Regions from separate parts of the Homo sapiens genome. Here regions 1 and 3 are each reported to be linked to region 2. Evidence: microRNA targets listed by miRTarBase, many of them from high-throughput screens and not tested one by one. Region 2 holds a microRNA gene; each other region holds the end of a gene's coding sequence.

What was found. Region 2 holds the annotated microRNA hsa-miR-4509 (ACUAAAGGAUAUAGAAGGUUUU, at 1,972-1,993, opposite strand). A microRNA usually pairs through its seed, bases 2 to 8, with sites in the 3' UTR of a target mRNA and lowers its output. Matches are read on the target gene's strand: a 7mer-m8 pairs with bases 2 to 8, a 7mer-A1 pairs with bases 2 to 7 and ends in A, and an 8mer does both.
Region 1: the mRNA of CLIP1 is a reported target of hsa-miR-4509. Seed matches in the 3' UTR shown: 7mer-m8 at 380-386.
Region 3: miRTarBase lists POU2F1 as a target of hsa-miR-4509. Seed matches in the 3' UTR shown: 7mer-m8 at 121-127.

What each region holds. Positions count from the first base shown.
Region 1 is chr12:122,270,101-122,273,100 of GRCh38, reverse strand. It overlaps CLIP1 (CAP-Gly domain containing linker protein 1), which reads left to right. Exons shown (of 26, transcript NM_001247997.2): 26 at 1-1,632. The coding sequence ends at 226. Among named protein-coding and RNA genes, the nearest start is that of VPS33A, 5.1 kb to the right of the region's middle.
Region 2 is chr15:23,196,569-23,199,836 of GRCh38, reverse strand. It overlaps MIR4509-1 (microRNA 4509-1), which reads right to left and starts at 2,010; the gene lies at 1,917-2,010.
Region 3 is chr1:167,415,538-167,418,537 of GRCh38, reverse strand. It overlaps POU2F1 (POU class 2 homeobox 1), which reads right to left. Exons shown (of 16, transcript NM_002697.4): 16 at 1-3,000. The coding sequence ends at 2,728. Among named protein-coding and RNA genes, the nearest start is that of CD247, 100 kb to the left of the region's middle.

The DNA of each region.
Region 1 (3,000 bases), not on the chromosome of region 2:
TGATGATCAGGAGAAACAGTCCAAGAAGAAACCTCGCCTCTTCTGTGACATTTGTGACTGCTTTGATCTCCACGACACAGAGGATTGTCCTACCCAGGCACAGATGTCAGAGGACCCTCCCCATTCCACACACCATGGCAGTCGGGGTGAGGAACGCCCATACTGTGAAATCTGTGAGATGTTTGGACACTGGGCCACCAACTGCAATGACGACGAAACCTTCTGATGAAGCCTCCAGTGGAGAACTGGGCTTGCTCAGACGCACTCGCATTGACACAACGTAACACCAGCATTGTGTGTGCAGACTTCAGGAGAACTCATGTTATTTTTTAACCCCGTCAACAAATCTAGGAAAATATTTTGATCTTCAACAAATTGCCCTTTAGTCTCCCCGTATGAGTTAGAATAATAAATATTTAGTAGGTGAGTTTTCACCTCGAATTTTGTTTTCTTGATTTTTACGTTTGAAGACATTGCACCAGATGCCATTACATTTATTGGCCCCCCGACCTTGTAGAAAAACCCCTACCCTCACAATACCTTATTTAAGTAACTTTAAATTATGCCGTTACTTTTCATATTTGCACTAAGATATTTCCAGGCTGCATTTGTATATTTAGATTTTTTGGTTAAGCTTTGACACTGGAATGAGTTGAAAAAATGTGCCATTTTGCATTTTCATCTACTCATTTAAAGTATTTTATTCTTATTCAAAGAAATATCTGAGCTCTTTGCACTACCTGTTATCAGTAGTGCCTTTACTTCAGGCTTGATAATACTTAGGTGTGATTATAAAATCATGAAGCAGGTAAAGGGAGGGGCAAGCCCCCAAACTGCTGTGGGGACATTTTATAATCTATATGCTGCACCCACTTAATCTACTGTGGTGTTTTGTTTATTAGTTTTGCATAATTTCAGCTTCTATATATTGTATGTATATATTTTTTAAAAATCTATATTTTGGGAAAAAAACATACACAATGTGTCTTTCTTTTTGGACATTTACCTTTTTGAAAAAGAAAACACTTAAAATGATCATTAGGACATAACAGACTAGGCCAGACATAGCATCTTGTGGCTTTGCAACCATTTTCATTTGTTTGTTTTCCTTTTATTTCTTCACCAGATTTAAATAACTGGAGGAATTTTCTCCAATTTTTTTTTCCTTCTCTGGCAGGTATCCCCAGCAGTCAATTAACAATAAGCCAGTATAAAACACCTAAATAACCAATCTACAATCTCCCTTCACAAGTTTTTTTACTGTTTTTAGATGAATGTACGATGAGAAATTCAACGTTAATAATTCTGGATTTTCTTATCACAAAAAAGAAAATGAAGGACCTCAAAGCACCTGAACAGTTTATCGACCAGTTTGAATCTATTTATCTTCATTTGAATGTCTTCTAGAATATGTAAAAAGTCATAAAATGTATCTTCCATGCTACATGTACAATAAGAACTTCTATAATTGTATATATGCCTTTGATGTATTTTCCCCTCAAGATTATCAACTGTGTGTTCGACAGTGAATATTCAATCTGGTACCAGTTGAAATTTTTGGTTATAAATGTAATACGAATTGTTTCACAAACAGAAAACATGTAAAGCAGTATTAAAATTTGGCCAAACAAGTGTTCTGTATCTACTTTAATAAATGGTTATTCTTTTTTGTTTTGTGGGTTTTGTTTTGTTTGAGACAGGGTCTCACTCTGTTGCCCAGGCTGGAATACAGTGGCACAATCATGGATTGCTGCAGCCTCCAACTCCTGAGCTCAAGCAATCCTCTCACCTCAGCCTCCAAAGCAGCTAGGACTACAGGCAAGTGCCACCACACCTGGCCAATTTTTTTTTTTTTTTTTTTTTTTTTGAGACGGAGTCTCACTCTGTCGCCCAGGCTGGGTGCAGTGGTGTGATCTCGGCTCACTGCAAGCTCCACCTCCTGGGTTCACGCCATTCTCCTGCCTCAGCCTCCCGAGTAGCTGAGACTATAGGCATCCGCCACCATGCCCAGCTAGTTTTTTGTATTTTTAGTAGAGACAGGGTTTCACCGTGTTAGCCAGGATGGCCTCGATCTCCTGACCTCGTGATCCGCCTGCCTCGGCCACCCAAAGTGCTGGGATTACAACACCTGGCTAATTTTTAAATTTTTTGTACAGAGTGAGTCTCCCTATGTTGCCCGGGCTGGTTTTGAACTCCTGGGTTCAAGTGATCCTCCCACTTCAGCCTCCTAAAGTGTTGGGAGTGCTCACCCAGCCAATAAATGGTTATTCTTTTTTGCTAATGGTAGTAAATTGATATTCTCAGGTTTGTCATAATGGTTTTACTTCAAATGAGCAAACCCTATACATTCATATAGCAATTTCTACTGCAGTCTTGTTACTAAAGTTTTTAAGAAATTGGTAGGCCTGGTGCGGTGGCTCACGCCTTTAATCCCAGCACTTTGGGAGGCCGAGGCGGGTGGATCACGAGGTCAGGAGATCGAGACCATCCTGGCTAACACGGTGAAACCCTGTCTCTACTAAAAATACAAAAAATTACCCGGGCACGGTGGCGGGCACCTGTAGTCCCAGCTACTCGGGAGGCTGAGGCAGGAGAATGGCGTGCACCCAGGAGGCGGAGCTTGCATTGAGCCAAGATCGTGCCACTGCAGTCCAGCCTGGGCGAAAGAGTGAGACTCCATCTCGAAAAAAAAAAAAAGCCAAGCGTGGTGCACACCTGTAGTCCCAGCTACTGGGGAGGTTGAGGCAGGAGAATTGCTTGAGCCCAGGAGTTAAGAGGCTACAGTGAGCTATGATTGTGCCACTGCACTCCTAGGCAACAGAGTGAGACACTGTCTCTCATTTTTTTTTTGGTATGTCTTTCTGTCCTTCTTAAAGTGTTTCATGACCCATTTAGCATAACGTACTTGTAGTTGTTATCCATTACTGTATCACCCCACATTACCTGACAAAAATAATTACCTGATAAAAATCAATGTGGCACCATGTGGTGCCAACTATC
Region 2 (3,268 bases):
GCCCAAGGCCATGGGAGACCACCACTTGCGTCAGTGTGACCTGCATGTGAGACACGGAGTCAAAGGAGATCATTTTGGAACTTTAACGTTTAATGACTGCCCTATTGGATTTCAGACTTGCATGGAGCCTGTAGCCCCTTTGTTTTGACCAATGTCTCCCATCTGGAACAGGTGTAGATACACTGGGGGTACCCAATGCCTGTACCCCCATTGTATGTAGGAAGTAACTAACTTGCTTTTAGTTTTACAGGCTCATAGGTGGAAGGGACTTGTCTCAGATGAGACCTTGGACTGTGGACTTTTCAGTTAATGTTGAAACGAGTTAAAACTTTGGGGGACTGTTGGGAAGGCATGATTGATTTTGAAATGTGAGAACATGAGATTCAGGAGGCGCCAGGGGAAGAATGATATGGTTTGGCTATGTCCCTACCCAAATCTCATCTTGAATTGTAGCTCCCATAATCCCCATATGTCATGAAAGGGACCCAGTGGGAGGTAACTGAATCATGGGGATGGGTTTCTCCCTGTGTTGTTCTTGTGAAACCGAATAAGTCTCACAAGATCTGATGGTTTTATAAAGGGGAGTTCCCCTGCACATGCTCTCTCTCTTGCCTGCCACCATGTAAGACATGTCTTTGCTCCTCCTTTGCCTTCTGCCATGATTGTGAGGCTTCCCCAGCCACGTGGAACTGAGTCCATTAAACCTTTTTTTCTTTATAAATTACCCAGTCTCAGGTATTTCTTCATAGCAGTATGAAAGTGGACTAACACAGTATCAAACCCTGGTTTGGGGTAATAATCACTACCTTCTAGGTAACCAGAATGGAAAAAATATAACAGAAAAAAAATCCTAAAAATCATCCTGCGTACAAGAAAAATGAAACTGTATGCTGAATTCTCAGGGGGAGAAAACGTATTTAAAAATATATGACTTTCAAACCACAAGAAACTATAGACCATTGCTTTAAACTATTTGTCTATGAACAGTATGTAGAAACACATGGAATTTAGGAAATAGGAGATGAAGGCTACAATAACAAAAGAGGCTCATATCACAAAATGGGAGATAGCTGAGATGAGGCTTCTATGAAAACTAAAGTGCAAGGGCAGATTTTCCATCCACAGGGAAATCCGTGGAGAAAGAAACTGACACACTGAAAAGTTCAAGCAGCAATTGAATCAGAGCTCTGGAGGGCAAAGGAAGAGATGAACTAATGACAGAGAAGAAGGCGGATGGGTATGCCAGAGACCACAGGTTCCACCTCGAGAATAGTTTGTGTACTGGGGAAAGACACAAGGGCAAGGAGATCTGAAACAATAATCAAAGCTATCACTGAAGTACGAATAATAAAAGCACCAACCAGCTTCTAGGCAGGGAGGGGGAAGAAACAAGGAAGAGTTCTCCATATTTAAATAACAACTAGCCAAACTCCTGAATTTTACAAATAAATAAAAAAACTTCCTTAAAAATAAAAAGTCAGGCTTAGATAAGACTTTTTTTCTTCTCTGTTAACATTATTAGAAGACATAAAGATTTTAAGAGAATAAAAATATGATCAAGAGGATCATAAATATCAGGTTGTCTTTACCTGAGTACGAAGCAATGGCATCTGTATATCCAGCACTGATTTGTCCTTCCAATAAAAATTTACTCAAAGACATATGGGTACATATTAGAAAAATAATCAAAATTAATATTTCAAGGATTAGGAAGTTGTGAAGCCAAAATCCTGCAAGGGGACAATTGATTCAGTTAATGGAAAGATTTATTTTTCATATTTTATGATTATTTACCAAAATAATATTTTTAAAGTATAATTATAAAATAAAAATAAAATATTTAACAATACTATAATTATAATCATGTTCCAAGTTATAAAACAAGATAGTGAGAATTGTCAGTAAGATAGTAAGAATTCTAATACTATCTCAAAATAAAGGATACAGAAGGTTTCAGGGCAAGAGAAAGGGAAAACCTTCTATATCCTTTAGTTTGAGATAGTATTAAAGCTTTCTGTAGGCTCACTCAAAATGTCCGGATTCTGACCACATTTGAATGAGCACTCCCAACCTGACGATTCCTAGTCTAAGCCACACATATTTCCTCTTATGGTTATTGCAAAAGCTCCCTAACTGGTCTCCCAGCTTCTGCCGTTGATTCCTTTCAGCTATTTTTTACACAAGTGCCAGAGAAATCTCAGAAATGCAATTCAGATGATATCACTTCTTTGCTTATATCTTTCAATGTTGTTCCCCTCTACGTGTTCATGTATTCTCCCCTTTGACTCTCGCTTCTAAGTGGGAACATTTGGTTTTCTGTTCCTGCATTAGTTGGCTAAGGATAATGGCTTCCAGCTCCATCCATGTTCCTACAAAGGGCGTGATCTCATCTTTTATGGTGGCATAATATGCCATGGTGTATATATACCACATTTTCTTTATCCAGTCTACCATTGATGGGCATTTATGTTGATTCCATGCCTTTGCTACTGTGAATAGCGCTGCAATAAACATATGCATGCATGTGTCTTTATGACAGAACAATTTATATTCCTTTGGGTGTATACCCAGTAATAGGATTGCCGGGTCGAATGGTAGTTCTTTTAGGTCTTTGAGGAATCACCACACTGTCTTCCACAATGGCTGAACTAATTTACACTCCCACCAACAGTGTAGAAATGTTGCCTTTTCTCCACAATATTGCCAGCATGTTATTTTTTGGCTTTTTAATAATAACCATTCTGAATGGTGTGAGATAGTATCTCATTGTACTTCTGATGTGCATTTCTTTAATGATCAGTGATGCTGAGCTTTTTTTCTATGTTTGTTGGCTGCATGTATGTCTTATTTTGAAAAGGAGGGTGAAAGCTGGGAGGAGGGAGAGGATCAGGAAAGACAACTAGTGGGTAGCAGGTTTACCATGTGGGTAACAGAATAATCCGTACAACAAACCCCCATGACACAAGTTTACCTACATAACAAACCTGCACGTGTACCACTGAACTTAAAAGTTAAATTTAAAAAATAAAAAATAAAAAAATCTTTCAATGGTCCCATGTCAGTTTGAGGAACAGCCAAAGTCCTTAAAATGACGTACAAGGTGCTCGTTCCATCATCCGTCTTCTCATGTTTATTTCTCTGCCACCATCTACTAATACTCTTCCCCCTTCTCATTCTACTCCAGCTATAATGGCTTCCTCGATGCTGTTCTAAGAATAAGTCCACATGATTCCGACTCAGGGCTTTTGCCCAAGCTGTGGTCTCTCTT
Region 3 (3,000 bases), not on the chromosome of region 2:
CTGGGTACCAGCATTTCCCTCCCTGAATCCTTCCTTCTAAGTTTCACCACTCCCAAGGGAGGGACTCATTATTATGGGCAGCTACAGCATTACTGATAGCCCTAAAATCATTTCCACAGACTAAAGGTAGAGATGTCAAGTCAGGATAGAAGATTAAATTTAACTACAACAGAGAAAAAGTGAATGGAGAGGAGAGAAATTAGTAATTGACATTGTCATTCTATTTACACACCAACCTAATAAACTAGTTAAACATCAAGTTAATGTCTGCCCAGAGGATATCACAATTTACCAACATAAAAGATTAAAAACAAGCAGCAACTTTCATATAAAATTAATAAAGACAAATGAAAAAGAAATTGTCAGTAGCATCTATCTCCTCGATGTGTCTGAACTGCACGTTATCAACTAGTCCATTAGTACAGCAGCTTGCTAAAAATTGACTTTGGTTCAAGCTTAGTTAAAAAACAAAACAAAACATAAAAAAACACACCACACAAAAAGGGTGAATGGACATTTGTTAGTTTCCCTGCTTGCAGTTCACTGATTTTGGAAGGATTTTAGGGAAGGTGAAGGGTAAGAGGAGGAAATTTAGGGGTGGTAATTAAATATCTGTGAAATAAAACACGATAGAAATAAACTAAAAGAAATATTTTAAAGGGGACTAAAATGTTTCTGACCTTTTAACAGACTGTCTCCCACTTGAATCACACACAAAAGTACACATTGTGTCTGTATTTACTGCCTTACTGGACAATGGGAAAGAGACAAGTACACAGAATCCAAGCTCCCTTGTGGACACAAACAAAAGCAATCAGAATAAAAATCACCTGTAAGTTCTCTCTACATCCCCAGCTCGAAAGGGAGAAAAAGTGCAGTCTTGGGACCACCAGAGATTTAAGCAAGCACCCACAGCCACCAAATGGGAACCTTTAACTCCAATAAGAAGGGGAACTTAGATGAGCTGCACTGCAGTGATCCAGTCTTTTGGAAAATTTTTTGGTACAGATGGCATAACAACAGTACACTGACAAAAAAAGGAATTTAATCTCCAAGTTACCCTTATTCCTCTTCATCCACTTTCACAAACTCTTCCTTTTCAATGGGCTCATTTATATAGTCTACAAACACCCTGAAAATAATTACAGAGCTAATTACTTTCTACATTGAATAAAGAGATGTGTATTGCCATTTAGACCTACCTAGCAGGAGCATCATGAACAAACCAAGGAGACACTTAAGGTGTGTGCAAAGTTCCTGCTCAAAGTCCTTCTTCAAAGGTTCTACAGATCCCAGCCCGGCTAATAAGTGCCTCCTTTAGTCAGAGAACCAAGAAGAATCTCAGGGTTAGAGGAATTTATAAACCATCCAGTGGAAAGGAAGTCTGTGGCTCTCTAGAGGAAAAGGTGGTAACCTTATACCCTTCTCATCACACCTCTTTTGTATATATTATCAATGGAAAATAGTCTAGTAGAATTCCTTTAGAAAATAAAAGAAGGGAAAAGTTTCCCAATTTCAGTAAGTCAGTTTTTTTTCTTTGCCAAGTTAGTTAAAGTTTGGATGAAAAACTTCCACAAAATGGAACAAACAAACAAACACACCAACAGCAGGAGCATTTTTCAGGAGATAAGAAATCAGGAGAACCACCAAGTCAGGTGTCTGCAGTAGTCTTTGCTCTTGGGAACCAAATCCTGCCCTGCAACATGTACAGCTGTTCCCATTGAAAGTAGCAGAAAGCAGCACTGTTGCACCACAGGAACTGGGCCTCAGGGTCATTCAATGATTTGGGGGTGAGTGAGAGCTACAGTTCAGCAGGAATTCCTTCCTACACAAAAGTGCTCCAAAGGCACCACCTGATGTGGGGAGGGGAAGGGGCGTGTGTGGAATGGGAGTGTTTGCACACACTGCCTTCAGCTTCTGCACCAAGCCTCTTGCATAAGTGGCAAAAGAAAATAATTTTCTAGCACCTCTGTAAGAGTCATCAAGGATAAGGAAACCAGCAAGAACATTCCCCACAGTTAAGAACAGAAGTCTCCCCTTACCCCAAAACCCTCCCTCCCCACAGTGTGGGAGCTCACTGAAATAGGATCCAGGAGCAAGAGATAATAAACATGTCCAAACTATATATATAAAACAATAACAACAACAACAATAATAATACAGTAATACAGGCCTGCCTAAATTGTACCAGTTAAGAAAGGAACCCCCAACACAATTGATACGATTATAAACACCTTGTTATGACTTAATGGCCTGTACAACAGACCCATAAAAATGATTTTTTTTTTTTAAGAAAAAAAGAAATTTAGACAAACAAGAAATCCCCTTCCTATATTGGAATTGGTAACCCACCTTAACTTGTCATCATGACTGCTGGAAATGATAAGTAGTCCTTTCACTTATTTTTGTTTGTTTTTGATTTTTTTGTTTCTTTTTTTTTTTTTTTTTTTAATTTTTGGTTAGAAAGTTCTCCAATCCATGAAGCAATCCTGAAAAGACAGTGTTTTATTACAAAATTAGGCAAATGTTCCGTCTCCATCCTTTCTTTCTTTTTCTGGTATGTGTGTATGGGTGTGTGTGGTTTTTTTTTTTTTTTCTCCCTTCTCTCCTTTGCCCTCACAACACGGCGAGAGGAAGCCAATCACATTTTTCAGTTTATTAACCTGGCTGGCAGTCCAATCACACTGCAGAGTGAAAAAGGCTTCTGGCAGCCCAGCTCTGCCCAGCTCACTGTGCCTTGGAGGCGGTGGTGGTGGTGGACGCAGCCCCGCTGGCAGAGGCCACTGTGAAGAGAGAGTTCTGGATGGACTCAGCAGAGGTGGAGGTGGCGTGAAGGCTGGCTACAGGTGCAGAGTTCCCTGCAGATGCTGCGGCGGCAGAGACCAAGCTAACAGGGTTGCTGGTGAGCAGAGAGAGGTTCTGAGGGTTCAGGAACAGAGGGGCAGTCACGATGTTGGGGGCTCCTCCCGCATTGGCAAATACCAGGTTCCCAGTTGCATC